Regions from separate parts of the Homo sapiens genome. Here region 1 is linked to region 2. The links come from fine-mapping of genetic effects on gene expression. A gene starts in region 2. The other region holds a variant in brackets. All regions are shown on one strand. Distances are from middle to middle.

Evidence for each region. PIP is the estimated chance that this variant, and not a neighbour inherited with it, causes the effect.
Region 1: its variant is fine-mapped to the expression of MB21D2 in fibroblasts (GTEx, PIP 0.95).

What each region holds. Positions count from the first base shown.
Region 1 is chr3:192,789,661-192,805,069 of GRCh38, reverse strand. MB21D2 (Mab-21 domain containing 2) reads left to right here. Exons shown (of 2, transcript NM_178496.4): 2 at 5,420-8,255. The coding sequence ends at 6,684. Among named protein-coding and RNA genes, the nearest start is that of FGF12, 70 kb to the right of the region's middle. RefSeq lists an enhancer at 13,447-14,646. The variant G/A (reference allele first, on the strand shown) is at 6,826.
Region 2 is chr3:192,910,223-192,925,631 of GRCh38, reverse strand. It overlaps MB21D2 (Mab-21 domain containing 2), which reads left to right and starts at 7,776. Exons shown (of 2, transcript NM_178496.4): 1 at 7,776-8,002. The coding sequence starts at 7,792. RefSeq lists a silencer at 7,471-7,830 and enhancers at 8,481-8,810, 10,438-10,938.

The DNA.
Region 1 (15,409 bases), 120 kb after region 2:
AACAATGCTGGTAATCTGTCACTAAGGCCGTATGACCCCACATGAGTGATTTCTCCTCTTGGAACCAGTTTTTTCTTCAGATAGATGATTTCTGGGCATGAACGAGGAAAGGCCTAAAATCTTTTCCAACTGGGGTCATTAAGAATTTCATGGATTAGTGACTTTCTTAGAAAAAGGTGGCTATGCCCACATCTCAGACGTTCCTCAGAATGTCAGGTAAGCTTGACAAAAATACTTCCACCCTGGAAACATAAACCATAATATTTTTATAGGAAGGTTTTATATTGTTTATTGTCAACCAAGGAGACTTACCCTAGGGGATGCATCAGAATGAAAGAAGGACTTTGTCAACATCATCACACCGTGTACCCTTCCTGCCATTAAAACCCACTGCTGGAATAAGGCACTGTTTGTTACTGGTATGTGCTACATGAGTTGGAGCTAAAAAAGGAAACTCTTTTATATGAAACAATGACTATTACTGAGATATTCAGGCATATAGTCAAAGGTATATAAAAAGATAAAATTTATCTAATTTTGTAACTTTAATTATAAGACATAAAAATTTTACTTCTTTTATAAACCTTTCTCCCTTCAACATATGTAAGTGTGTGTGTGTGTGTGTGTGTGTGTGTGTGTGTGTATCTGTTTTAAAGAAGTCTATACAGGTACTATTTTGACTTACCTACTTAGTATTTCTTGAACTCTCTGAGTTTTCACAGACTTACTGGGGTGGGGTTGTAAAGACAACAAGAAATCATACTTAGTTTTTGTGCTCTAGTATTAGCAATCTGGCATTATATGTTTGCATGATGAAGGTTTGCAGTTTCAATTTAGTGGAATATGATATAGTTTTATTCACTAGAACATAAGTCAGGGACAGAGTTCCATTTTTCACTTGATATTCTAAAGATAATCAGTAAATAACTGAAAGCATGACGTGAAACACATTCCTTAAACTTAGGACCTGAGTATCTATATAAAAGGGTACTATTAAGATATTCTTAAGTAAAAACTCTGAAATATATCAAAACCAAGAAACAGTGAATTACAGGAAAAGAGGTTGAGTGGCAGTTTTACTTAAGAACAAGCATATGCCAGTGCCTCCATGAAAAGAAGAGACCCACCCAAGGGAATAGCTATCCTCTATCCTTCCTTTTTTGTTTTGCTGCTAACAAGCTCAGTGGTGTATGTGCATCTTCCTTCTGTTCCCACTCATAGCTTTGGATAATCTAACAGCTAAACAGCCAGAGTCACTAGATCTTATCCTCCAGTAATTACACAGAAAACCTCGGATCATTGCAGAGATGGCACTTGTTGGAACTGATCCCTACAGCCAAAGCGTACAGTTGAAAATTTTCCCTCCTCTGTCTTTTTCCCTTCCAGCCCTGTGTTTTGGTTGCATGGCAACCCATCTGCCATGATAGCTGATGTCAGCTCATTTTCACTTAAACTTAGCCCAGGAAAGTTTTCAAGGAAGACATTTGGGCTTGTATAACGCTGGGGAAGGCTCGAGTTCTGTTACCATATCGTTTGTAAAATTGCAGACTAATGGGCTCAGGGAGGCTAAATGGAAATGTGGATGTAGGAAGGGATTAGCTTCTGGAACAGTGTGGCCTTAGGGACTTTGTTTCTTATAGGGGCTTAGTAAATGTGTGTCTGCAATACTCTTTCTGCTACTAAAGGGCTTTCTTCACTTTAAAAGGAATAAGAAGTGTTCAAAATTACCCTATCTCCTGAATATTAGAATTTAGCCAAATACTTGATGTTGACTCCTTTGAATAAAGGGTCAACATTTTAACGAGATGCATAAGCATCATTGAGAGGAAAGAGAACCTTTTATCATTGGCAGGAATTTTCTAGTGTGTATATTGACAAGTGAAAACAGGTTAAAACTTCTTAAATCCAGCAGAGGGCAGAAGGGAGTTTTAGCTATGGCTTACCCAAGACTCTCCAAACAAGATTGTAACAATCCAAGGCAAAATTCAGTGGCACTTTTGTAGACAAATTATCTCCAGGTTGTTAATGCACAAGTTACCCTGATTATATAGACGAGTCTTAGTTGGTGGGCTCAAAGCCAGTTTGCTTCTGTCCAGGACAAAAGCATATATAGGATTTTGAGTTAGTTACGCCTAAGAGGAGACAACAGTGTGTACTCAAATAACAATATCACTTTAATAGATTCAGATCTTATTTACTAACCACAACACAGCATTTCACAGTACTTCTCACGTATATTTATGGTATTCTGAATGGTAGAATGAAAGGATGTTTGAAATAATGAAGAGTAAACGATTTCATTATCAAATATATCTCACTGAAACTGACTGTTCCAACATGTGAGTTCATAAAATAATGAAAATGATTTTCACAACCTAATCTGGAATCTGAGAAATCAATTTTATCCTTTAAAGCAATAACCAAAACGTGGGATGGTAGTATTTCTTTACATGGCAAAGATGAGGTTAATATTAAAACATAATGACATTTGAGAAATGGATCTTTGTCTTGGCATTTATAAGAACTTTCAATCCGGATTAAGTTTGGCTTTAAAAAAGAAAACACTTTAAAAAGGAAAAACATATTTTCCATGCTGAAGACGGTTTTTGTTTGGGTAGTAGGTAGTATCTTCTGTTTTGCTTGGATAGTATTTAGTGTAGTATGTTGGGTTTCTCAGGACGCAGCCTCTGAAATGGAGTTAGGATGTTTATGAAGCAGCACCCTTGGGATCTACACCTGTCGAAGTGGGGAAGGAAGCAGGTTCAAGTAGGAGAAGCTGAGCTTCCCTGCAGGCGCATCATTCGCCACAGCCAACCCCACTGGGAACTCAGAGTTTGAGTGGCCCTTCAGAGTATCCTGAGCTGGGACACTCCCACACCGATCAGTTATTGGATGTGCACCTGCAACCCCCATCCCAGCCACAGGACCTGACCTGGCTAAGACAGCCCTTTGCAGCTGAGACAATCCTTAAGGGCTAGCATTTAAGCAGCTGGAAGTCCTTTATTGAAGAGGGACCTGGATGCCGTATCACAGTGCAGATAGTGTGAGAAACAGCCAAGAAGTCAGGTTTGTTGGATGTTCTTTCTGATGAATTGTTGACACTATAATGTTGGCTAACTTACGGTTTTAAAAAGAAAATGATAACTTGCCATATTTCTGTGTGTAAAGAATTGTACTAAATAAAAGACTTTTTCATGGTTAATGTGGTTTGGAAAATAGGATTTTAAAGAGCATATTTTAATAAATGAGCGTTAAATTTTAAAGTATAATTGTCTTAGTTCATTCAGGCTGTTATGTCAAAGTACCTAAACTGAGTAGCTTATAAACAGCAGGGATTTATTTCTCACCATTCTGGATGTCAAGAAAGCCAAGATCAAGGTGCCTGCAGATTCATTGTCTGGTGAGGGACAGCTTCCTGGTTCATAGATGGCTGTCTTCTCACTGTGTCCTCACATGGCAGAAGGGGTAAAGAAGCGCTCTGAGGTTTCTTTTATAAGGGTACCAATCCCACTCATGAGGGTTCCACTCTCACGCCTGATCACCTACCACAGGCCCCAGCTCCTAATACTATCACATTGAAAGTTGGGATTTCAACATGTGAGTGGGAGTCACGAACGTTCAGAGTATAACAATAATAGTAAGAAAACACAGGCATATGGTTTATTTGATTTGGGATTGTCCTATGAAGAGCAAACTATGAATTATAATGAATAATGGAATATTATAATACTTTGTGGTAGGTCTTGATCTTTGGGGAAACACTGTTAAATAAATCACAGGATGACGCTGGTAGTTTGTCAGAGAATCAAGCGTAAGCAAGTATATAATGAAGGAGGGAAAATGTATATGTTGTTTATGGAACAGTCATTTAAGTCTAGCCTTTAAGAATTTATGTTAATTCCATCTATTAATGCTATCTACCTATTAATTTCATGCATTTTTTCCCTTATCATTTAGTCATAGCTTGAATTATGTTCCTACTGCATGCACGGAGTCTTCTATACCTGCTTAATACATGAGACATGGTTCTCAAAAGGACCCACAATCTCTTAAAAAATCACATTTGTTAATATCATCGCCAATTTAATCAGAAACGTATACAATTCGAGAAGATGTCACGCTCATGGTGCGGAGTTTTCTAAATTTAATTTTCCCTTAGAAATTTCAGCTTTATCATTGGCAATAAATATTGTCAGTAGTTTCCTTGAAGCCAGGCTCATTTTGTTCATTTCTGAAGAAAATGTCTACCAAATACCCAAATCTAAATAGCCATAGTTTTCTGTTGTTCTTTAAAGTAAAAATGGCGTTCCATGAACAAAGAGGCTAGTTCAGCTCACAACTCAGTTACGTGAGTGCTTTTCCTGAAGACAGATTTCCTATTTCAGTATGAGGAAGACGGGTTTTATGGTTATTTCCATTTCATCACACAGACTATTAGGAAGATAGTCTTTCTAATGGCTCAGAGGTTGAGATTCAATAAAATAACTTATTTTTCTTCTCCATCAAGGATTTTCTTAAGTAAAACTGGGTTTTTTAAAAAAAAATTGCTAATGCATGTCAGTGGTAAAGAACCTACTGACTGCTAGTACAGTTTGGCATCAGTGTCTTTGCTGCTAAGGCACTGGCAATATTATCCTCCCTTGTTTCTGTGCCATTAGTACAATGGCAACACAGTAAAAAAGTCAGACAAGACTGGGCGTGGTAGCTCATGCCTGTAATCCCAGCACTTGGGGGAAGCCGAGGTAGGAGAATTGCTTGAGGCCAGGAATTTTAGACCAGCCTGGGCAACATAGCAAGACCCTGTCTCTTAAAAAAAAAGTCAAACAGTGTGTTAGTATTATTATAAAGAGAGTTATGAACTCATTACCCCTGAAAGTGTCTCCAGCCCACACTGAGAACCGCTGGTACAAAGAAGAGTGTAAGCGCAAAGAGCCTGGGGAAAGAAAACCGCTTAGGCAATAGATAAAAAAGGCCGAACTTCATATGATGGCAGGAGAGATGGAGAACAGGGAAGGAAGTGAGAAACCCTGGCAGAGGTTCCATGGAAAAGATTTGGCAGTAGAAGGGCAGCAAAGAGTTGAAATGTACTGAGGTTTTCAGTCTGCATAACTGAGTGGATGGCAATTCCATTAACTGAGATGATGACTGGGGGAAGAGGGGCCCTGTTTTATTATTGAAAACGATACTGCTTTTCACACTGAGAGAGAAAAATCTATCATAATTCTTGCATTTGGAAAAGGGTGGATTCTAGCACTAGTGAGAAAGTACTGTTGGCCAGGTCTCTGCAGCAGCCTGAGATTTGATTTAGTACTGATAATGAGTTTTGGTTCTTGGAACATCAGAGCATTCTGTTTCATGCATAAGACTCTTATGTCTGTGTTTCCTGTAATAGTGTTGTTTTTTTCTTCTTTATTTCCAGGAATGGTGCAAAAGCTGGACCAAAAGCTTCCAGTGGCTAATGAATACCTGTTGCTCTCTGGAGGTGTCCGGGAAGGCGTGGTGGACCTGGACTTAGATGAGCTTAATGTCTATGCCCGGGGTACTGACTATGATATGGACTTTACCCTCTTGGTGCCAGCCCTCAAGCTGCATGACCGTAATCAGCCTGTGACACTCGACATGCGCCACTCAGCCTTGTGCCACTCTTGGCTGAGCCTTCGGCTCTTTGATGAGGGGACAATCAGTAAATGGAAAGACTGCTGCACCATTGTAGATCACATCAATGGTGCCACCAACTACTTCTTCTCACCTACCAAAGTGGCTGACTGGTTCTATGACTCTATCAGCATTGTCCTATCAGAAATACAGAAGAAACCCCAGCGAGGGATGCCAAAGGTAGAAAAGGTGGAAAAAAATGGGACCATCATCTCCATCATTCTGGGTGTAGGGAGTAGTCGCATGTTGTATGATATTGTCCCTGTGGTATCTTTCAAAGGTTGGCCTGCAGTGGCCCAGAGCTGGCTCATGGAGAACCACTTTTGGGATGGGAAGATTACTGAGGAAGAGGTCATCAGTGGGTTTTACTTGGTGCCTGCTTGCTCCTACAAGGGTAAGAAGGACAATGAATGGCGGCTGTCCTTTGCCAGGAGCGAGGTGCAGTTGAAGAAGTGCATCTCCAGCAGCCTCATGCAGGCCTATCAGGCCTGCAAAGCCATCATCATTAAACTGCTGTCCCGGCCCAAGGCTATTAGCCCCTATCACCTGCGGAGCATGATGCTCTGGGCCTGCGACAGACTTCCTGCCAACTACTTGGCTCAAGAAGACTATGCAGCCCACTTTTTGCTGGGCCTCATCGATGACCTGCAACACTGTCTGGTCAACAAGATGTGCCCCAATTATTTCATCCCTCAGTGCAACATGCTGGAACATCTGTCTGAGGAGACAGTCATGCTTCACGCCCGGAAGCTGTCCTCTGTGCGCTCAGACCCGGCAGAGCACTTGCGCACCGCCATTGAGCATGTCAAGGCAGCCAACCGGCTGACACTGGAGCTCCAGAGGCGAGGTAGCACCACCAGCATCCCCTCTCCACAGTCTGACGGAGGGGACCCCAACCAGCCTGATGACCGTTTGGCAAAAAAACTGCAGCAGCTAGTGACTGAGAACCCGGGAAAGTCAATCTCTGTCTTTATCAATCCTGACGATGTCACAAGGCCCCATTTCAGAATTGATGACAAATTTTTCTGAGTGTTAGCTGACTTTTTTTTTTCCTGATTCTTAAACTCTGATAATGTGTCGTGTGGTTTGTGATGCTATCTTTCTGTTTTTTACATATCCAGCCTAGATTGGATTTGTTAAGAACAAATTTTAAGTTTCCTGGTTCTGCAG[G/A]ATGGTGCAGGCTCTGAAACAGTATATTACTATTTCATATTCTGCCTCTGATTTCGTTGTTTACTTTTTGTAGTTATTGTCATGCTCTTTAGTTTGTTGGAGTTTTTTTTCTTTTTAAGGAGATCTTAAGCCATAGATGAAAATGCCCATGAATCCTCTTGCTTTTTTCTGTTTCATACTTGGTGCAAATTTGTTCATGGGTATGGGGAAACAAATCTCTTTCTGATGCTTAACGATTCTATCCTATTATTTTTATTATTTTGTTTTTGTCTTTTTTCTTATGAGCTTTCACCACTACTGATATTTGAGAATCATATGAACCTGGGAACTACTTGGCATGTTAGCTGGATTTATTTATTTTGGCCAGTGACCAGAGTAGTTTCCCCCCTTTTCCACCAAACAATGTAAACTTTGAAAGTGATAATACTACAAATTGTGTTTTGGAGCAACTTCATTGAATGTAATTGTCCTCAAATCAGAGAACACTGGGTGGTTTGAAGGGTGTCTTTGACAGTTTTCCAAGCAGAATTAAGGTTTCCAAATGTTAATTTTAGCATATGTAATTATTTGAAGCCTTATTTAAATCCTATTAAAGAACATACCATTATAATTATTATTTGCACTAATCTTTGCCATTGTCAGAATTGCAAAGTGTGTTTCAATATAAATTAACAACCACTCTCGAAATTCTATCATTTTTTCATTTTGCCCATTTCTATCAGTGAAATGATTCTTTGCATTTGCTTAGTTCTCCTTCAGTTGTGGGGTCCTGCTTTGCCCTCTTTGATATTCCTGGTTCCTGTCTTACTGAGAGAAGTTGTTAAAGCTTTATACATGTTGACCCCATCTAAAGCTGGGGAAAATATACACTTGATGAAGTAGGTGTCTTTGTATTTATTTCTTTTGGGGTCATAGAGGTAAGCTTTTTTGTAAAATCTCTACTCTTCCTGAGAGTTTTGAGAAAAACTGGCAGGAAGAACTTATAATCCCCAAATAGAAGATACCACGTCTGTTCAAAAGCAGGTATTGCTATAGAGCAGCACCCAGGAAATATCTGTGGGTGGCAGCCTTGGTATAGAGGTGTCCTGTCTTCATGAGTGAAGTTACTTGCCTGATTAGGTGCTGGAAGGTATTGGCTCCCTGTTTTGGTGTGGACTCATGGCAAGCTGGTGTTTAAGAGGTCAGGAGGCCTGCTGATCTTTCAAAGGACACCCATGATGTCTACTCATAGAAAGGGCAAGTAACGTGTTCATTTTGGTCTTGAATGTCCAAACTCAAGGGTTGGATTTTGGCCAATTGAAATCAGACATATGCGATCTTGGGTTTTTGCATGGAAATTAATGTAATGCTTATAAATGAAAAATGAAAACATTTCAACCATCTAAGTCAAACACAAAAATAATAAAAAAAGAAACATACTGGCCTTGAAATTTTGTTGTTGTTTGTAATCTGGGAATTATTTTCTTATTAGTATTATATTAGTATATTTATATATTAGTATATTTTCTTATTAGTATTATACTAACAGCAATTTTCAATAAATACAGCCATGGGCTTGCTAGTGTCTTTCGGACCAGTTGTCCATATAGTGAACAACCAACATTCAGTCTTCCTCTTTCCCCAGTTTTACTACTAATGTCTATCCGCCACATCATCCTTGTCCTTCTCAGGAAATGATTTCATCCCTAGTGCTGAAAACGCGTCATAATTGGAAAAGCTGATCTGCACAAACCATCTCCCTGGCCACAACATTAACAAGCGACACAGAATGTAAGCCGCTCCAGTCAGGGACACGCTCAGCGTTCCAAACTGGAATGCTGGGACAGAAACATACACTCTCCCTGGATATGGAGGAGAAAGCATTTGGATTCTTTTGCTACTGACAACTATCACACGATCTTTATTTATTTGTGTATTTATTTTTAATACACTTTAAGTTCTGGGTTACATGTGCAGAACGTGCAGTTTTGTTACATAGGTATATACGTGCCCTGGGTGATGTGCTGCACTCATCAACCCGTCACTAATGCTATCCCTCCCCCAGCCCCCTACCCCCCGACAGGCCCCGATGCGTGATGCTCCCCTCCCTGTGTCCGTGTGTTCTCATTGTTCAACTCCCACTTAAGAGTGAGAACATGTGGCGTTTGGTTTTCTGATCTTGTATCACGCAATCTTGACTAGAGCTAGCTTTAGGATGAAGCTGACGTTGGATGGCGTTATGGGAGCTGGGAATTAAAACATGACCTACCACACCCGCCACATCTGAGATCTCCACTAGACTTTCTAGTTAAATGAGTCAACACTTGGGTTATTTTAGCCAGTTTGAATTTGGCTCATCAAAATATTTAAACTGGTATACCAAACTACTTCAGTATATTTAAACTATTGCCGTTGTTGTGTGCCTCTTTTCTTTCTCGGGACAGATATCAGGGTTACCGTGTATTTTATCTAAGAGCTGGTTTATGCTATCTGATTTGATTCAAAAAAAATAGCCTCTATAATAATTATGCTTCTACTAAAGCCTGTTAAAAATGTATGATACTTTGACCATTACATTACACTTTGTAGATTAAAATAGTTGTAAACCATCAAAGTAGCAAGCATATTACAACAGCTGTTTCTTTAAGCTATAAACGACCATAACTATTCTCTGAACTAGTGTCTCAAATACACTTAGCAATATTTGCAATATTTTACGTGCCATGTTTTCAGACAAAACTCCATTACAGGCATAAAAAGAAACTAGTTTCAAAGATCCTCTTGGCCCTGTTTTTGTTTTGTTTTTTGTTTTGTTTTGTTTTTGCCACTTCTAGTCCTAGTGAAGATCACTCTACAAATTCTTGGTTAAACGTCTCGAAAAAGGTCCAGAGGCCTCTGGGCTCTAGTAATTTTAAAATCCTTTAAAAAATTCCTGGAATTTCCTATTGGTACTATAACCTCGGACTTTTGGCTCAGATGCTGAGAGGGCTAGAAATGGGATGTAGTCCAATACCTTTTCTTATCTGAAATTTAAGCAAATCATTGAGTTACTAACCAGTCTGTCCTCCTGAAGTTCAGAAGATCGGTTAAAATCACTTCTGTTTCAAGCACAGAATACAATGCCTTAAGGCTGGAGTCATAATTTTAACATTATTCATGGCTGACTTTTTGATCGGGGGGTATTTACAAGCTATTACTCAACGGGCCTTCAGTTCTCTAATGAGGCTGGTTTCACCTATTTTGAGAGTAGGTTATTCTCTGTCCCCTGGCTTTCTCTTCTGAAATGGAAGATCCAAAGATGCCAGTAAAGGTTGGTTTAGAAGTGGGTGGAGCCAGGACCAGACATTTAAAAAATATTTCTGAAAGTACTATACAGAATTATTTCAGAGAAAATGAGAGGCAGGCATATGTAGCTAATCTTACTTCTGGGTGGAGAGGTGGGAAAAGTGGAAAGGACGTTAGGAGCTCCTAGTCACTTGTGTACCACAGGCACACGCACATACATGAGTGTGAGCACACACACATATTTTTATATCACCAACTGGAGGTTTCTTTGGGGTGACTTTTATAATGCACTTCCTTGGAGAATTAAGCCCCCTGGTCATAACTAATCGTTGGTGGTTTGGAATCAGATCACTGCCTCACCAAGAGGAATTTTCTGAGTTGGAGTTCAGCCTTTGCTGGTAATGCTGGGAAGGAACAGGAGGCGTGTTGAGCAGCGGTGTTGGTCTCCCAGGGTCTGGGGGCTTCCTGTGGCTTCAAAGCTCAGCAGTGGTCTTTAGAGAAGGTGCCTCAAGTTCCATCCCGGTAAGCTCTCTCCAGAACCTTTCTCTGAGTCACTGAAGGGGCTGTTGGTATGACTGTTTCAGGTAGGAATCTGGGAAAGACTTCTTTCACTCTCCCACAGTCTTGCCTAGAGGATAAGCCTTTCTGTCATTAAATGGAGCACTAGCTACTACTAATATTAAAGGAAGAATAGGGATCAATCTCTGTTGCTGTTTCTTTATTAATGTCAGGTAAATACAAATGTATTTTTTAGATTATTACAGGGATGTAATCAATGCCCCTCTTTGAGGAAAACAGTTAATTTTAAAAATGCAACTCTTGGCCAGGCACAGTGGCTCACGCCTGTAATCCCAGCACTTTGGGAGGCCAAGGCGGGTGGATCACCTGAGGTCAGGAGTTGGAGACCAGCCTGAACAACATGGCAAAACCCCGTCTCTACTAAAAAGTACAAAAATTAGCCAGGCGTGGTGGCGGGCGCCTCTAATCCCATCTACTCAGGAGGCTGAGGCAGGAGAATAGCTTGAACCCAGGAGCCGGAGGTTGCAGTGAGCCGAGATCACGCCACTGCACTCTAGCCTGGGCAACAAGAGTGAGACTCCATCTCAAAAAAAAAAAAAAAAAAAACAACTCTTATGCTATAATTTCTTCAACAGTTAAACAAAGAATGTATAATCTAAACACTTTAGAATAAATATTCACCAATGGAGAATTACATATCTAAAATTCTACCTTATGTTAATTACCTGGAAAAATATATTTTTATTTTTTAGGACTGAAGCTGTAATAATTTACAATAGTTTATGCCCATTTCCAGTGCTATTAGCAATAAGTTCAAAAGCAGCATGTTTCGTAAACCATTTCCTATATCACACTGAAATTTTATATTGATTTAATGTAACTATTTTTCTGAGTTTGAATTGACAGTTTTTCTCCGCGGTTGGGTCTCGACATTCAGCGATCATCAGAGAGACCGTATGACTGGGTTTGTGTGGTTAAGAATAAGCAAGAAATCTCAGAAAAGTCTAATATTAACCATCATGTAAATACACTGTTGTTCAAAGATGTATAAAGACATATATAGCCTTAATTTGGTATGGCAGCTAAGATGAGAATGTTTGCACTCTGGACCACTCTCCCTCTCTTTTCAAGATGAATGGACTCCTAATGTGACCTTGGTGAGGGCGCATTGATATATTTTTCTCTTGCCATTTTCTGCCTCACCAATTAATCACAGAAGATAAAAGGGGCTAACTTTGAATATAGTTGAAATTTTGTTTCTTTGATTTTATATCCTTATCCGTAAAATATGGATTGGGGTAGCTGTTCTAGCTTTCACTAAAATTGCCTCAGTTTCCAAATTAGTCTCAAGTTTAGATTTATATATCTACACATTTGGAGTATCCATTTTGACAATATTATTTTTAAAAATCTTACTAAGTTGCACCAACACCTACAGTGGAGCACAGGAAACATTTATTGAACACCTGCATGTACAGTTCTTGCTAGATGCTTTATATTCATGAGCCTATTGAAGTATCACAACAACTCTAAACACGGTAAGTCTAAACTTCAATACTCAGGAATTAGGTAACTTGTTCAAAATTACATAGATAATTAAGTGGTAGGGCAGAGTCAGTGTTTGAACCCATTTGTTTGTTTCAAAAATTAAGAACTTTCTTCTGTGTTATACTGCCTCTGGTATTAGAATCTGTTTTTATTGTTTAAGATAAATTCTATTATGTGCCTGCATAGGGGGGCCTGCATTCAGATAACAGGTAAACCTTGGACTGTGTTCTGATACCAGAACCCTGAGTATTTCCAGAGCTTTTCATCAGCAGAATAGATGGATCATTTAGAGAATGCTAAGAGAAGATAAATGACCATTTATGGAAAATTTTCTGTTTAGGGCAAGGAAATGGACCAAATGTCTCTATCATTTTAACTTCTGAGCTCAGAGGAGTAGGCAGAAGAACTGTTAGTTACTATTAGCAAAATACTACTCTTTTTAAAGATGTAGGGAGAGAGGTATTTACGAATTAGCTACAAATGAAAGGTATGACAACTTTAATGGCTCAGCTGGCCTTGATGTAAAAATGAAATACATGTAAATAGACCACTTGTATTTTTAAAACAGTATTTCTGTAATTTAGAGGGAGTTTTTGAATATTTTTTGAATATGATATCTTTTAAAAATTCTGAGCATTTGTAGACTTTGGTAGACTAAACCCCCTACAAAATCTTACTGCTTACATTTTATAAATCTATAATTTACCATTTACATTAATACTTTTTTAATAGAAATAGGAATCTCAAACGACTTTTTATAGACTATCACCAAACTGAAGACTGTGAGGTGTGGTTTGAATGATGCCCTAGGTGATTGACCCAAGAGGCAAGACAGCATTCCTTGGTTGTGATAATTGAAGCTACCCTGAGATAAACAGCAGCTTGTTTCTGATCCTTGTTCCTTCCAGCCTCAACACAGCCTATGCTTGGAGGACCAAAGCAAATAATCTGCTATCATGAGCCAAACTCTTCATTTATGGGAATTAATAAATCTAAAGAAGCGTCCCATCTCACAAGATAATAAGAATGATTAAAAGTAAAGTCAGACTCATCTGATCTTTTGTGGTGATGGGCAGGTACTTTCTATAATGATTGTGGAAATTTACCAAATGACTGTCCTCCGAAAAGGAACCTGTTGAAGGAAGAATGTTCTGTAGTGGGTAGGAAAGGCGGGTTGAGGCAACCTGTGGACCAATAGTGAGTGTGTAGACAAGGGGCTGGACAACCTGGATGCAGACGGTTCTGACATTAGCTATGACACTTTAGGCAAACCTTTCCCTTTTCTGGGTCTTGTTTGCTCTCATCGTTTGTAAATTGAAGATGAGATGTGTGGCCTGTCTTCAGAGCCTTCATGAAGAGCTGTAAAAGAACAAACACCAAGACAACAGCTACACACAAATATTAAGCAATGATAACCTATGACGGTTAAATGGGATTTGCAGATCCTGGCTGGGGCTGTAGATAAACTGAGATGGACAGAAGTGGCAGGGAGTGCTCAGATAGGTTGGAATAAATGAGAGGACGTTGCTTCTGCTTGTCTCGTTCCTTACAACAGAGTGGTATCATTATTCTGAGACCTCTCCAAGGCCAATCTCGTGGTCATAGGCACAGATCTCTCTGTACCCTCTGCACAGCTGTGATTGTAACATTTTATAAGCTGTTGCTTACAAAAGGATTTTACTGGAAAACAAACTATTTTTGGCTCTCAGGTCCTTAAATATAGCTCAAGCATTGACCTTCACTAATTCACACATCAGTGTTGTTCAGCTTTTTTATACGAGAATCCTAAAAGTAAGCCATTTGGGGGTTTGCGTGACAAGAAGGTAAGTCCAGGTTGGGTATATAACCTGCTTAAATTTGCTACCTACCATGTGTTCTCCGTGTGGTAGAAACCTTTGGGGACAGTGTCTCCTATCAGAATCCTGTGACTGACAAGATCACAGCACGACTCCAGCCAGCGGAATCATTCCTTGTTGTCATATTGACGTTGCAGTCATCTTGTGTTTTTCTATGCTAATGGTGTGGAGAAGAAACTAACAAAATGTAAAAAGAGTAAATAACAAAGTAACAGTCTATGAATGGCTTCCTTAGCAGTGAAGGTCCTGGCCTAGAAAGTTTCTGAATTTTGGCATCACCTGCCTGTTTGTTTCACATAGTTCTATGCCCAGACCCAGTCTCCTTATATTGTTGTTAGTAACAATTATATCGAATATTAAGTGGGTGAAGAGACCCCATCCAAGTTTCTACATTAATTTCTGTTTTCAAATTTCTGTTTTTAGATATCCTGAAATCTTTTGATCAACACAAAAACCTCGTGCTTCAACCTATCCTTAATTCTTTTGGACACTCCTTTTTCACTTTCCTGTTACTTGTTAGAGAATCACTATCTTCTAAGTATTCCCACTAGACAGCCAAAAATATTTTGACAAGCTTTCTGAGGTTTGTACTATAAAAATTATAGATATTAGGGGATTTTAAAATAAATTTAGAGACTGTGGTTTTTCAAGCTACACATACTCCTAATTCTAAAACACCATGATGCAATAACCCTCCCCCTACCTCCATTAAGAATAATTTATCTACATGGAAGGCCAAGTGGATGTTGAAGGGCTTTTCTAAATTTCTTCTGCCTAATTTGACCTCATAGAATAACCTGCCTCACTAGAAAGAATTATTTATAAAGAAATGTCTCTATAGCTTGTTGGTCTACACAGACTTTGCTCAAATCTTGAATCTCCTATTGTGTCTGGAATTGGTGGGTTCTTGGTCTCACTGACTTCAAGAATGAAGCCGCGGACCCTCGTGGTGAGTGTTACAGCTCTTAAGGTGGCGCGTCTGGAGTTTGTTCCTTCTGATGTTCGGATGTGTTCAGAGTTTCTTCCTTCTGGTGGGTTCGTGGTCTTGCTGGCTCAGGAGTGAAGCTGCAGACCTTCGCGGTGAGTGTTACAGCACATAAAGGCAGTGTGGACCCAAAGAGTGAGCAGCAGCAGGATTTATTGCAAAGAGCGAAAAAACAAACCTTCCACAGTGTGGAAGGGGACCCCAGCGGGTTGCCACTGCTGGCTCCGGCAGCCTGCTTTTATTCTCTTATCCGGCCCCACGCACATCCTGCTGATTGGTAGAGCCGAGTGGTCTGTTTTGACAGGGCGCTGATTGGTGCGTTTACAATCTCCGAGCTAGACACAAAGGTTCTCCTCCCCACTAGATTAGCTAGACAGAGTTTCCACACAAACGTTCTCCAAGGCCCCACCAG
Region 2 (15,409 bases):
CGGGTGGAATGAAATAACCTGCTAGAATCGGACAGTAAGAAAGCCAGAAACGGCTGGGCACCCTGCCTCACGCCTGTAATCCCAGCACTTTGGGAGGCTGAATCACAAGGTCAGGAGATCGAGACCATCCTGGCTAACATGGTGAAACCCCGTCTCTACTGAAAATACAAAAAATTAGCCGGACGTGGTGGCGGGCGCCTCTAATCCCAGCTACTTGGGAGGCTGAGGCAGGAGAATGGCCTAAACCCAGGAGCGGAGGTTGCAGTGAGCCGAGATCGCGCCACTGCCCTCCAGCCTGGGCAACAGAGGGAGACTCCGTCTCAAAAAAAAAAAAAAAAGAAAGAAAGAAAGAAAAAGAAAACAAAAGCCAGAAACAAGGAAATATGTATTTTTAAGCCTAGAAAAATAAAAGACATAATCCTTGATCTTCGTTGGGCCTTACATGAAAATAGATCTCAAACACCTTGTGTTTAGTGCAGAACATAGCTCTGTCATGGAGTGACTCCTTGTAGGAAGCTAGTTTTCAGTTTTCCTGTTAACTGAAAATGGATCATAGAGTCAGAGCTTCTCAGAGTTGAAAGACATTTCAGAGGCCATAGTCTCAGCTCTTTACTAACTTAGGAACCTAGCATAACCCTGATGGGTGGATAACACAGCCCTGAACACCTTCTGTGATGGGGAGTTTACTAATTCATAAAGCAGCCTATTCAGTGCACAGTGGCTCTCATTGTGAGAAAATGCTTCCACATCCTCAGTCAAAGTTTTATGTCTGTAGCTGCCATCAATCCCTCCTGGTTCCACCCTCTGAAGCCACATAGGAGAAAAAAAAACTAAATTAATTTATATTTAATTAACTAATTGACCACAGCAAAGCAAGCCAAACAGCTCCACTTTTCCCATGACAAAGGATTATGGTCTATCCTTGGCACTCGATCCAGTACCCAGAGTATATGTAAAGTAGGATACGGATTGGTGTGGAGAACCCAGAACAGGGCCTTTTGGCAAGTTCAAGGGCCAGAACAAAATGTAACAGTATCAACGGATTGATTGGTTATGAGGGCCCCACCGTTTCACCAGAACAGCTGATGGGGTTAAGGCAGTCGTAATATGCGAAGAGGATTTTTCGAGTTATTTTAAATTACCTGCAATTATTACTATGCCCTTTCTTACCTGATGTGTAGAGTTTAAGTCAAATGGGTTTTCCCAAAAGTGAGAAGAATTGAAAATATGAACTTAATTTTTAAAGTTATTTTGTCGTAAACTTTATTGAGCAAAGGGCCTGAGCTTAGATTTTAAGGTAGAGAGAAGAGGAACAAAAGGCTTTGTTTACAGTAAGGTAACTTGAATCAAAATTTGGAATCAGATTGTGTATGTGAAATGCTGATAAAGCGTACCCATTCTCTAAAATGTGAGAGATTATTGGTGTTTTTCTGTATACTCAATGGGTGCTAACAACAGATTCAGTGAGGTTTCATGGAAAGAACTTGGATTGTAAATCAAAAGACTCAAATTTGGGGTCTGAGCCTGCATTTACTTTTTAATCAAACATTTATTGAATATCTACTATGTTCTACACATCCAGTAAGAGGTACTGGTGATACATCTGTGATCAAGACAGACAGTGTTGCATACATTTTTGTGAGGGAAACAGGAAAGTTATCAGGCAGATACAAGGAAGTGTGAGAACGAACAGTGACGTAAGTCCAGAGGGAAGGAGAGTCTACAAAGGAATTTACCTGACCTAGACCTGGGTGTGTGGGGGTGGAGGAGATCCAGAAAAAGCTCTTTGCAAGGAAATGACATCTAAATAGAGAGCTGAAGGATGACAATTAGCCACAAACTTCACTATCTCTCTGAGCTTTAGTTTCTTATTTCCAAAATGCAAAAAATAATAATAGTCCTCACTAACCTGCTTCAGTAAGAGGCTGTGAGGAACCGATAAATGAATTTTGTGATGAGCGCTTTGTTGAACTGTAAAGTGCTCTATTATCAGGAGGAATTGTTAATAATTGCTATCAGATATTGTTATTTCCATCCCTAGAGTTCATTTCCTTCTTTTCACACGCACAGATTTTGCTTCCCTGAGTATAGCAGGAGTAGAGAATAAAACAAGAGACTGGATGAAGAGATTGATATTGCTGCACTTTTCTCCATAGCTAGATCATTCACGCCCTCAAGGTCATTAGAGTACAGGGTTGGGGGAGAGAGAGAGAGCAGAGAATAAAATGAGAGACTGAGTGGAGAGATTTACATTGCTGCACTTTTCTCCATAGCTAGATCACTCACGCCCTCAAGGTTATGAGGATACAGGGTTGAGGGAGAAGCTGGGACTAGGCCCTCTGAACCATGTGAACACATCAGAGCAGGTGGGCTTCACATGGGCCTCACTTTATTAGGACTGAATAGTCTGAATAGAGAGGGTTATTTATATTGTTCTGGGGACCTCGCTAATATTTCAATGGCCTAAGGCCGGGCGCGGTGGCTCACGTCTGTAATCCCAGCACTTTGGGAGGCTGAGGTGGGCAGATCATGAGGTCAGGAGTTCAAGGCCAGTCTGGCCAACATGGTGATTCCCTGTCTCTACTAAAAATACCAAAATTAGCCGGGTGTGGTGGTGTGTGCCTGTAATCCCAGCTACTCCAGAGGCTGAGGGAGGAGAATTGCTTGAATCAGGACCCAGAAGGTGGAGGTGGCAGTGAGCTGAGATGGTGTCACTGCACTCCAGCCTGGGCAACAAAGCGAAACTCCGTCTCAAAAAAAAAAAAAAAAAAAAAAATTAAACGGCCTAATCTCATTAGAAGTAACAGTGCCCGATTTGCCCCAAGCAGGGACGTGCGCACCTCTGTTTATGACTACCAAAGAGATTTAGCTGTAGTCTTGATTGTCTACCTATTGCCAGGAAAAATCAGTAGCCAAGTAATTCCAAATGTCAGCAGTTTCTGGTTTACTGAGATTTAACTTCAAGTGAAATGAGTGCATTTTGCCCAAGGGCCACTCTCCTGTTTTTATTTTTATTTTTTAAATTATAATTTTGATCAAATTTCGTGGCATTTTTCATGTTCCTTCTGGCAGTCTGGAAACACAATAACAAATATTTAGTAAATTTAAAGTTAGTATGAAAAATAGAAACAGAATTGTCTCTACTATCTAGTCAAGTTTCCCTTCTCTTTCTGTGCCCTCATTCTCCCATCTGGTAAATAAGGGGGGTAGATGGAATTTATCATCTAAGTTCCTTCTACTGTCAACATTCCACACGTCTGTGATGTTTGCCTCTCTTTTTCCTGCCTGCATTTCAAATCATAAAAAACCCAGGCCACTTCCATTTGTTAGACTTTTATTGAAAATCCAGCTGCCCAAGAAGGCCAGATCTTGTAGCCTAGGCTGCTATTTAAATCTCCCTCAGACCAGAGAATCTTTGTTTAAAATTATATTTTGTTAATCCATCATGTGGATGTGGAGCTTGCTATTTTTAATGCAGGCTCTGCACAGCCCAGTTATTCATGGCTGAGAGTTTGCCACAGAACTTCAGAGCTGTATTTAACAACAAACAGCTCCAGAGAAGCAAGATGAAGACTTCTTTCACATGCTAATAAAATTTGGGAGTTGGGAGTAGAAGGGCAAGTTCTACCTCTAAGTGTGACAGCAGTTTGGAAATGCAGGCTGTTACTCTGTTCTGTTTGATGCTGCAAGAGCCAGCAAAGGAAAAGCCTACCTTAGTGCTTGTTTAGATGGTAGACTCCACTGACCTTTGTCCATCTGTCAAAATTCTAGAGATATGCATTTTTATTCAAGCCTCAGACACTCTTTAACATCTTCTAATAATGATTTTCTCTCTCTCTCCACCTTCCTCTCTATCTCTCTTCCTTCTCTTAGGTCATATAACATACACAGGGAGAAAAAGGCATAAAAATTGGGGCATTTAATTAAATGCATGCAGAAATACTTACATTTATAACAACACTTAACTAAATACTGGGAAACCATAGATAGCTTACATTGAGATATTTAAATTGTAGCAAAAATCACCTAAATTCTGACTTCTTGGACTTTGAGGGATGGTATTAGTTCATTCTTTTTTATTATTATTTTTTCTGAGAAGGAGTCTCCCTCTGTTGCCCAGGCTGGAGTGCAGTGGTGCAACCTCGGCTCACCATAACTTCCACCTCCCGGGTTCAAGCGATTCTCCTGCCTCAGCCTCTCAACTAGCTGGGACTACAGGTGCATGCCACCATGCCTAGCTAATTTTTGAATTTTTAGTAGAGATGGGGTTTCACTATGTTGGCCAGGCTGGTCTTGAACTCCTGACCTTGTGATCTGCCCGCCTTGGCCTCCTAAAGTGCTGGGATTACAGGTGTGAGTCATCGTGCCCGGCTTCATTCATTCTTTTATATATTCATTTGAACATATAAACTAAGGTCATAAGATGGGTCAAGAACTAAATTAAATGCAGTGTTTACACAGGTGAAGAAACACAGTACTTGCCCTTGAGAAGCTCAGAGGTTAAAAAGTCTCCCAATAGATCAATTCAGGAAATTATGGTTTTTGATCGTTTTTCTCTATTCTTCTAATTCAACAAGGGATATTGACACAATCTTATCAGCGTTCTATTAGAGCCTAGGAAGGTGTTAGTTTACCATCCAATTACATTATCTGGATATGCGGGCTCACTGAGGGTCCATGATTCATAGAAATCTGATCTGGCTGACGGGAAGGAGAACAGACAATGAGGAACATCAGAGAGACCACTCACTCATTCAAACCCCCAGGGTCCAGCACTACGGCACAACAGGAATACTTTCTGCTAACAACCTGTTGTTTCTTTATGGATATAAATATCATAAGAAAAGGTAAAATTAAGGGAAGATTAGTGATGCCTCATTCATATGTTTGGAAATTAACAAATAAAAAGTGTTTCGATTTTGTTGTCTGAAGTATTTCTTAACTGTACATGGTTTGGAGGTAACTAGAACCATTCTGCTCTATGGAATGACTGCCTCAGCCAGCTGTCGCACAGGTGCCTGCCATTGATCACTAGTGAAGCACTGACAGATGGGAGTGGATCACTTTGTGCTGGAGTTCCAAACACTTATGTGGCTTCTAGTACTGCCCAGGTAATGTTAATATCCTCTCAGGATGAGAAGTCAGGGCAGCATAGCAGAGCTGCGAAAGCCAGAGCTTGCTTTGTTTGTTTGTTTGTTTGTTTGTTTGGAGATGGAGTCTCACTCTGTCACCCAGGGTGGAGTACAGTGGCGCGATCTCGGCTCACTGCAACTTCCGCCTCCTGGGTTCAAGCAATTCTCCTGCCTCAGCCTCCCAAGTAGCTGGGACTACAGGTGCACGCCGCCACAACTGGCTAATTTTTTGTATGTTTAGTAGAGATGGGATTTCATCGTGTTACCCAGGCTGGTCTCGAACTCCTGAGCTCAGGCAATCTGCCCGCCTCGGCCTCCAAAGTACTGGGATTAGAGGCGTGAACCACCACGCCCTGCCTAAAAACCAGAGTTTTTAAGTCACTTCCTCATCAGTCCACCAGCATTTATCTAGGCATGGATCCTCTCTCTTTCATACTGAGTGGGTGAGGAAGTGTGTTTCAAAGAGAAGGAAACGAAAAGTAAGAGAAATTAACTGGTTATGCCACAATTCTTCACTCATTACTTGATTCAATAAACATAGAGGACCCTTCGGTAGGACCATATGCTGCAGGAAATACAAAGATGAATAAGATGTAGCCCTCATCCCCAAGAATCTTTTAGTCTAAAACTTGCATTAACAATGATGAAGTGGTCAGGTGTGGTGGCTCACGCCTGTAATCCCTTTGAGAGATCTAGATGCAAGGACTGTTTAATCCCAGGAGGTTGAGGTTGCTGTGAGCCACGATTGTGCCACTGCACTCTGGCCTGGGCTACAGAGGAAGACCCTGTTTCAGAAACAAACAAACACACACACACACAACCCAAAACAAAAAGCAATGATGAAGCAAGGTCAAAATTCATTAGCATCATATGAAAGCTTCTGAGAGTAGGTTCTGAGGAAGGAAAAGTTGCCACCAGCTTGAGGGGAGGGTCTCCGGAAAGCTGTAAGAAAAAGGCAGACGCGGATTGGTTTTGGTGTAAACGGAGTAAAGAAGAGAGGAATTCCAGGGGGAGGTCAGTGGTCAGGTCTGTGTTTTCTAAAGATCACTCTGGCAACAAGTTGTTACTAGATTGAGGAACAGTGAAAGAATTAATAACAATAATAGTAGAAGCTGATAATAGCTAAGTACTTATTATGTCAGTCCTTGAACTAAGTGCTTGACCTGTTTTATCTCACGTAATCCTTAAAACAACCTGTGAGACAGGAATTATTATTCCCATTTTATAGGGGAAGGCATGGAAGAGTCCGTACTTCCTTCCATGTCTAACAAAACAATTTGTATTCTTGGCCATGAGAACTCGGGTAAGAAAGTGAAACAGACCTGATCTAAATCAGGGACTGTGGGATAGAGAAGAGAGATTTTGGAGAATTAGGGAGGAAGATAACCTATGTTTCTCACAGCCAATGGGCCTCCTAAGTGTTTGAATGATACACCCCATAAACACTAAAACCACCTCTGAGACTCTATTCTGCCTAAAGGACTATGACTTAGATTGAACCTGCCTTGTCATGTAAGCCTAACTCCATGGTAGGAGCCATGTCTTTTGGTTATCACTGTCACATTCTGTCACTCCATCTGGCAAATGGTGCGTACTCAAATTTTATCTGTTGAATGAGAAAATTTTCATCTTGTCATCCAACATTTCTTGGAACCTGGGGCAATACATTGTTTCCCCTCTCCCACACCCACACTTCAGTTTCCCTATCTTTATATTAGAGTAGGTTGAATCTCATTAACTCATTATATGTTAAGATAAATAAGCTGTTATTCAGGTCATTAATTACCTTGGGCAAAGGTAGGGATATCTAGGGGTTAGTGGGAGTGCCAATACTGGGTTAGATGTGGACCCTCTTTTTTTATACGCTCAATCCTATCATCTTGGCAATCCAAGAGGAAAAGGGTAGAAGACAGGTTTCATATTCCTTAAGGCAGTTTCCTTTACTATTTAAAGGTATTGGAGTTCTTGGGATAGAGAGGTAAACGCGCACAGAGATGTCCTCCCCCAGGACACCGCCCTTAAAATCAAACGGAGGAAGACTTTCTTCTCCTTGAATGCGCTTGGCAAACCCTGCCCAGAAAGGGGATGGGGGGACGGCCGTGGAGGTGGAGAAAGAATGCATCCACACCTCGCGCGTCTTCCCAAGTACGGATTGGCAAGTGGTATATGCGTGCAGACCTCTGTCATTTATTTATTTTCCTTTCCACTGGGTGCGCTGTCCCTTTAAATGGAGACGCTGGTGCTGGCTCCGTAACACCGGAGCCGGCAGCTTGTTGATTTCAGAGCTGGTGAATTTCACATTGTTTCCACTTCACTTTCCTCGCCCGGGGGAGGCTCCAGTTGGCTCTACGACCGCCGTTGCCGCTGCCAGAGAGGGCCAGGGCAGGGCAGGGACGCGCAGCATCGGGGCGGGCGTGGGGCCGGAGAAAAGGGTGTCGGGGCCACACACGCACCCTCGCTGCAGTCCAGCTCCTCCCGAAGCTCGCACGCCCAGAGCGCACGGAGCGGGGGACTGCCCGCCCAGACGCCCGCCCGCCAACCCGCCCACGAGCCGGGGCCAAAGCCTGGGAGCCTGCGAGGGGAGGAGGCCCAGGGGGGCGGGGTGGGGGGCGGGGGTGGGTGCCGCGCTGCCGCGGAGCTGCTACTCGGCGCGTTTTGCATGAAGATGGCGGCTCCCACCGCCAACAAGGCAGCCTCCCTGGGCTGTAACAACAAGCCTGCGTTCCCGGAGCTGGATTTCAGGTCGGGAGCTCGGGTGGAGGAATTGAACAAACTCATCCAAGAATTTACGAAGCACGACCAGCGGGAATACGACGACCAGAGAGCGCTGGAGATTCACACAGCCAAGGATTTCATCTTTTCCATGCTGGGTAAGGAGGAAAAAGGGGGAGGTGTGTGTGCGTGTGTGTGTGTGATGGGAAGCGGAGTAGAAAACCCATTGCCGCTTCTCGACCTCTTCCCTTCTGGGTTGCCTTCCCGAGCCGGTGCCTTGGGTATAAGCCATCTCTGTTCCGCCTCTCTCTTCTTTCTCCGCCGAAAGCCGAGCTGCCTGCCCTCCCCTCCTTACTATACTTTACGCCGGGTCTCCCTTTCCCCCTGTTCGCTTGCTCTTTTGTTAATTTCTCCGCCACCTGGGGCTGGCAGGCAGGTGAGGCGTTCGCGGTGAAGCGTTGCACTGTTGGGGGAAGCCCCTGGAAGCGAGTGCAGTCCAGGTGAGCCCCTGAGGTGCCTTCAGTTGAGGGATTTGGCTGCCGGAGGCAGGGACCTCCGCTTTCCCGACGCCGGCTCTTGGGTGCTCTCCCGAGCTTGGGAGCGGAGACGGCTCAGGGCTCTGGCTTGGCGCCCGAGCGACAAGTTGCTTCTGTCGTCTCGCGGCGCGGCGCTGTCATGCCGAGCCCCCGGTGGCCAAACTTGTTGGGTGTTCCCGAGTAACCCGCTGAAGTAGTCTAGGCGTCCGGAGTTCCTGCAACTTTGATTTGCAAATTGACTTCTCTTATGAAGCGATCGGAAGCATTTCCGGTGCTTCTTCAGGGCTCTCGCTGAGCTCGGAATTCTTAATTCCCAGCTCTTCCGTGACTAGGCGCGGAGCTCTGGCCGCAGAGGAGCGCCGGTTCCCTGCTCTTTGTGTATTGTCTTAGCGCTGGCCGAAAGAGGTGCCCAGAGTTTCCAACCGCGGAGACGTCGGGGGCTAGAAAATGTGTCCCCCACTCCCACCTCCAGCCCCTCACCTACGGCTCCTGAAACATGATTGAATGCTGTGTAAAGGAACATAATTGAGCCAGGCCCGGGAGACCGAGCCCACCCTCCCCAGGTGTCCTGCCGTTGGGATTATTGCTACTGAGGTGTAGTGTGAGTTTGCCAGGCGCCTGGGTTGTAACTTGCGGCTCCGCCAGCGGATCCGTGGCTGTCAAGCGGTGCGTGGCCGGCGGTCAACATTCCGAAGAACTGGTACTCCAGGGTAGCGCTGCTCTAACGCTCGTCTCTGGGTGCTCTCTACAAATAGATAAGCCAATTTTCCAGGTGTTGAAAAATTTGATTGGGAAAGGTCTTTTGGCCACAGACTAAGACAGGGCTTTTCTCTTTCTCCTGCAATCTAATTGGGTTTCAGCCGGCTGTTGCTGCTTCTATCCTGGGATACCTTCTTCCTTCTAGGTTTTCTTCTTCCTCACTGCCCAAGGACGGGGTAATACAGACTGAACGTGTCTGTGTCCGCTGGTAGTTGTTCACGCGTTGGGAAGTTAGATGAAACATGTTAAAACTCTAGGCTGGTTTTTACCTTTTGCGCCGCACTCTTCAAGTGTGTCTTACGTTGCGTATGAGGTTGAAAAACTATTGAGAGATTCAGCCGTTCAACTATGTAGATGAATAGATGAATTAAATATATATATATATATATATATAAAACCTGGTAGGAGTGAGCTTCCACAGGGAAGCCTAAAATGCTTACAAAGCCAAAAGCCAACACAGTGATTGTCAGGAAGGTGGGGCCACACACAGAAGGCTGAGCGCAGTTACTTAAGTTGTTTAGTTAATCATAGCCTTTCTCTGTGGCATAAATAATGGAAGTCTGCCATTGTGTTAATACAGCCCCCAGATCAGTTCTGATGTCACTTGCGTAGGTCATTTACTAGAAGAAGGTACTGGGTCACCACCAGTTAGGGTAGTCATGGGTCAGGAAATGGGATAATGTAGGGAGGGTAAATTTAAGTGCCTGGCTCATGAGGAACTTCTGTGCTTAACTCCAAAGCTGATACACTGAATCAGCAAAGCTTTTATCCAAATATAAAAAAGTAAATTATTCTAGGGTGCTTAATTTTTGCATGTGTTTAATGCCATGGGTGGCATTGTGTTGACAGGTAAACTAGATTTGCTTCTATTCCTTTTTACCCAGTTGACCTTGCAAGCAGTCTTTCTTGCCCCCTGGGAATTTAGCATTTCCACCTGCAGGAGAGAAGATTCAAGAGAGTGTCATTTAAGCCTTTTGCCCCTCTGGACACTAGAAGGCAGATGGCGAAATGAGCTTGCTTGCCTGTGTGTGGTGCTGCATTCATTTGCGAGTTCCTTGCTTTCCTTTAATGAGATGCTGGCTGCTCTACACAAGTGGAGGTTTGGCGACAGCAAGGGTTCCTATGTGGATTTACTTTTTCTAAAGCAGATTTTGGCTTGGCTTAAAGAACAAAATCATTTTTTTTATACACTTTGTTTCACTTGCCATAGCTTTGGTTCTTTGATGACTATGCAAATGAAGTCTCTTAATGACCCCTAGCTTGTTAAGGTGTTACTTGGGTGGTACCAGGCCCTCATTTCAGGGCGGGGGGGTGGAGGGTGGCCAGTCCTCTTGGCTTTGTTCTGTATCTGAGCTGCACCTGGGGATTGTTAGCAGCTTACAGATATTATCCCCTCACACAGAATGAAGTGGCCAACCACGAATTGGGTGCAAGCCTCTTTAGTGGAGCTGAGAAAAATACTGCCTCATGTTTCAGGCAGTTGGCAGGGGTGAGGCATGTTACTCTCTTTTTGTGTAAGATTGTTAGCCAAGTCTGAAGCCCCTCCAGCTTCACAGATCCTTTTCATTTTGTCTAGTTTGGAGGAATTTTACACTGAAGAGCAAGGAGGTGGTAGACAGCTGTCATAATCAATGACCTGTCAACACCAAGACACTCCACTGTCTTATCAAAGTAGGGTTCTGCACAGGCTGTGGGGTTGATCTGAGCTTGCTGGTGGTCACTGTGGTCTCTGGGGTCTGTCCTGATGCTCTCTGTTTGTACAGAGATTCTGATTTTTTTTTGGAGGCAGGTGTTAGCTGCAATTGTCTAGATTCACTTCTTATTCCTCTGTACCTTGGTCTTTTAGGAGAATGATTGGTGTTATTATCTAGTTAATATTTGAGAGCCCAGACTGTGCGAAAGGCTGGCAGTGCATAATAAACACCATTTATCAAAATTCAGGGAAATTGCCAGAGTTCATTAATGTTTTAATAATATTTGGTATTAGCATAATGTCTCTGCCAGCTCTTTTGTTATCTTCATTCCCTGGTGAGGTTCGATAGAGACTGGTTTGTGTCCCCATTGAACAGATGCAGAAAAGGGGGTATGCAGATGCTGGAGAAGGCAGGAAAGAAACAAGCCGTCACCTAACCTACAGACCAAGTGGTCGGTACCATGGCATGATTTTTACGGTAGTTAATCATTTACTAATCATCTTCTCAGGGCCAGGAACTTCACATAGACTTTTGAGGAGGTATTGCTTTCCCATTACATAGATGAAGATATTGAAATTTAGTGGGGTGAAGAAAGTGGATATCCAGGGTCACAAAGCTAATAGATGGTAGAGATGCTACTGAAACTCAGGTCAGCCTTACTCTAAAACATGTTCCTCTTCTCCTACTTGAGACTATTAAGAATAGATGCATAAAATCCAGAGGAAAGGCTTTGTTTTAAAAAATCACTTCTTTCAGGATTTTGTTTCGATTTTAGCTATAAGTTTTAGCGTAATATAAGTAGATTTCTGGAACAGTCTGAGTTCAAGTATTCTATAATAAGATCTCCTATTTGAATTTTTGATTGAGAAAATCATAGTAATTATAATAAAATGTTAAAATCTATAGTTTCATTCCCAGTCTGCCTCTTGTTGGCTTTGTGGTCTTAGTATTTTCTCTCTCTTTTTTTGAGACAGGATCTTGCTCCGTTGCCCAGCCTGGAGTGCAATAGTATGATCATGGCTCACCGCAGCCTCAAAGTCCTAGGCGTAAGCTATCTTCCTGTCTCAGCCTCCCTAGTGGCTAGGACTAGAGATGTGTACCACCGTGCCCAGCTAATTTTTTATTTTTTAAAATTTTTGTGTAGATGGAGTCTCACTATGTTGCCCAGGCTGGTCTCAAAATCCTGGCCTCAAGTGATCCTTCTGGCTTGGCCTCCCAAAGTGCTGGTATTACAGGCATGAGCCACCATGCCTGGCCAGTTTTTTCATTTATTAAACATGGATAACAGTAAGCATTGTTTTTCAGAACTGTTATGTCAGAATGTGAAATTACTTTGCTAACTAAAAAAGAATATATACGTGAGTTTATTATTTAAATAAATGTTTGTTTATTTATTTATTTGAGACAGGGTCTCGCTCTGTCACCTAGGCTAGAGTGCAGTGGTACAGTCTCAGCTCACTGCAACCTCTACTTCCTGGGCTCCAAGTGATCCTCCCACCCCAGCCTCCCAAGTAGCTAGGAGTGCAGGCGTGTAACACCACGCCTGGCTAGTTTTTTGTATTTTTGGTAGAGACAGGGTTTCGCCATGTTGCCCAGGCTGGTCTCACACCCCTGAGTTCAAGCAATCCTCCTGCTTTGACCTCCCAGAGTGCTGGGATAAAAATATACTTTCTTAGAAGATCCAGTGAACTTAAATTGGAATTATTTCTGCAGCTTGACATCTGAAAGAACTATGCAGTACAATTAGGGTAGCCCAGGAGGATTTTGGCTCATACCATGTGCTGACCATTGTGCTAGCTACTTTGCCTAAGTCCATTAGCTCATGTAATCTTTTTTCCACAACTTTGTAAGCATAAGTATCATGCCTATTTTGGAAGTGAAATAGGTGTTGTTACCCTTTTTAAAGATGAAATGGTGAGGCTCAAAGAAAGAAGTCAAGAACTTAGGCCAAGATCATTCAGAGTTGGAGACTGAATCCAGTTATTCCTGACTCAGAAGCTCATGTTCCTTTTACTGTAGTAGCAATCAGTTTCCATCACTTTTGGGTGAGACATACTATACTCAGTAGCCTGCCTAGTCTGTAGGAGCAAAGATAATTTCTTTTTTTCTTTTTTCTTTTTTTTTTGAGATACAGTTTTGCCCTTGTTGCCCAGGCTGGAGTGCAGTGGCATGATCTTGGCTCACTGCAACCTCTGCCTCCTGGGTTCAAGTGATTCTCCTGCCTCAGCCTCCCGAGTAGCTGGGATTACAGGCGCCCGCTACCACACCTGGCCAATTTTTGTATTTTTAGTAGAGATGGGGTTTCACCATGTTGTTGGCCAAGGCTGGTCTAGAACTCCTGACCTCAGGTGATCCACCCACCTCGGCCTCCCAAAGTGCTGGGATTACAGGCGTAAGCCACCATGCCCCGCCTGAGATAATTTCTTTTTGTCTTCCTGTCTCTGTCCCTCTTTCTCTCCCTCTGTTTTTTTCACGCATTTGACAAATACTTAATGAATGTAATAGTGTTTGCCAATCAGCGTGCAGGGTTCTGAAGATAAAATGGTGAACAAAAACTTTGAGAAATTCATAAGGGCCTTCAGGGACCCCTCCCCTGTTTCCTTTGCCCACCAACTCTAGCAGGATATTTTGCTGGCTGTTTCTCCTTTCAGGCCAATAAGTGCCATGTGGCCATTTCAAAGATGTAAATGCTTGGTGTGGTGCTCCTGGACCTACCATATTTTTAGGCACTTTCTACATCTCCAGAGTGGGTAATTTTGAAGCCCTACCTTTCCAGTGTTTGATTGCTACTTTTCTGTTAATGAATTCCCCCAGCAGGATTTACCATGGAAATTTATGGTGCGTTGGTGTTTTATGGGCCTCCATGTGCTTGGAAAGTTCCCGAGAGTTGTATTCACTATGTGCTGCATCTGTAGAGTGCACAGGATCATCTCGGAAGTTTGTTCTATCTCTGAGAACATTATGTATCCAGGGCAGGGGATCTCTCCAAACATTCATTTTTGTGCTAGTTTGGATTGGTTTCAATTCCCCCTCCATGGTTCTGGGCAGTGGCTGCCCTTCGTCCTTGAGAGAAGAGGCCTAGAACTGTCGACAGTCCTGGGTCTTCCTGTCATTCCTTGTCATGCCACTCATTGGATAATACATTGCTCACAGTTAGGCTGAGCCCCTTTTTAATTCACAGAAATATTAGATTCTAACAATTCAAAATCTCTGGTCCCATTCAGACCTATTGAATCCGAATTCCCTAGAGATCCCCCAACAAGCTGCTCAGCATGTCAACATCCTGTCCTGTGTTAGGCTTGATGTTCTGCATTCTCTGTTCTAGGCACAGTGAGCATGATCCCAGTTGACTTTTGAGACTAGAACCAAGCTGCTGAGCCTAATGAGCAGATAATGTCTGTCTGCTCCTGGAAAGTAATAGTGGAGTTCTTCCACCTGGGACAGAGACAAAAAGGCATAGTGAGTGAGACAAGGGTGTTTACTATGTCACAGGTTTTAATAGGACTTTACTGTATCATTTAATCATCACCATTACACTTTGAGGTTAAAAAAAAAAAACTGTGGTGAACCCTAGAATTAGAAAAATATAGGAATTCATCCAAGTTTACCAGCAAGTGAGTGGCATAGGTGGGACTTAACCTGGGTCAGGATGAATACAAAACCCTGGCTTTTAACAAGGACAATATTCTGCACTCAGGACCAAGAGACCCAGATTTTACCTCTGAATCTCCAGTTATTAACATTTGCTGTGTGACGTTGGGCAAGTCACTCAGACTTTAAGCCTCAGTTTCTAAATATATAAGTTGGGCTTAATCATTATATGTACTTCATGTGTTCAGGTGCATTCAATTCTGAATCTGAAAGTTTTTATATAGTAAGAGAAAAGGGAATTTCTGAGTTCTTGTACCAGCTCTGTTTTGTACTATGTGGTATGTGTTTTACCCTAAGTCTCCTAACCTATGTTGGGCCTAATTCTGCCCGTTTTCCAATGATAGAAAATGCAAAGGAAAAAGTAAAATCACTCCTAAACTTGAATCACCATTAATATTTTGATGCACATTTCTTCTAAACATCTGTGTTATACATATGCTTATACCCAGACATATGTGTACATTTACATAACAGGGATGGTATGGGATCCATGCTCTTTTATTAGGAGTAAATTTATCAATATGCTGTCCTCTACATTTTAAAGAGGAGCTATAAGTTGAAACTTGTAGAATGATGTTTTCCTAGCTTCTTTCATTCATCTCTTTTTATTCCAAAGAAGATGCATTTCTAGAACTTAGAGCACATTCTGTTATTTATGTATATATGTATGAATGACAGGTCTCACTCTGTTGCCCAGGCTGGAGTGCAATGATGCCATCACGGCTCACTGTAGCCTTGACCTCTTGGGCTCAAGCGATCCTCCTACCTCAGCATCCCAAGTACCTGGGACCACAGGAGAGCACAGCCATGCCTAGTTAATTTTTAAATTTTTTTTTTTTTTTTTTTTTTGTAGAGATGGTGGTCTTGTTGCCCAGGCTGGTCTTGAACTCTTGGGCTCAAGTGATTCTCCCACCTTGGCCTCCCA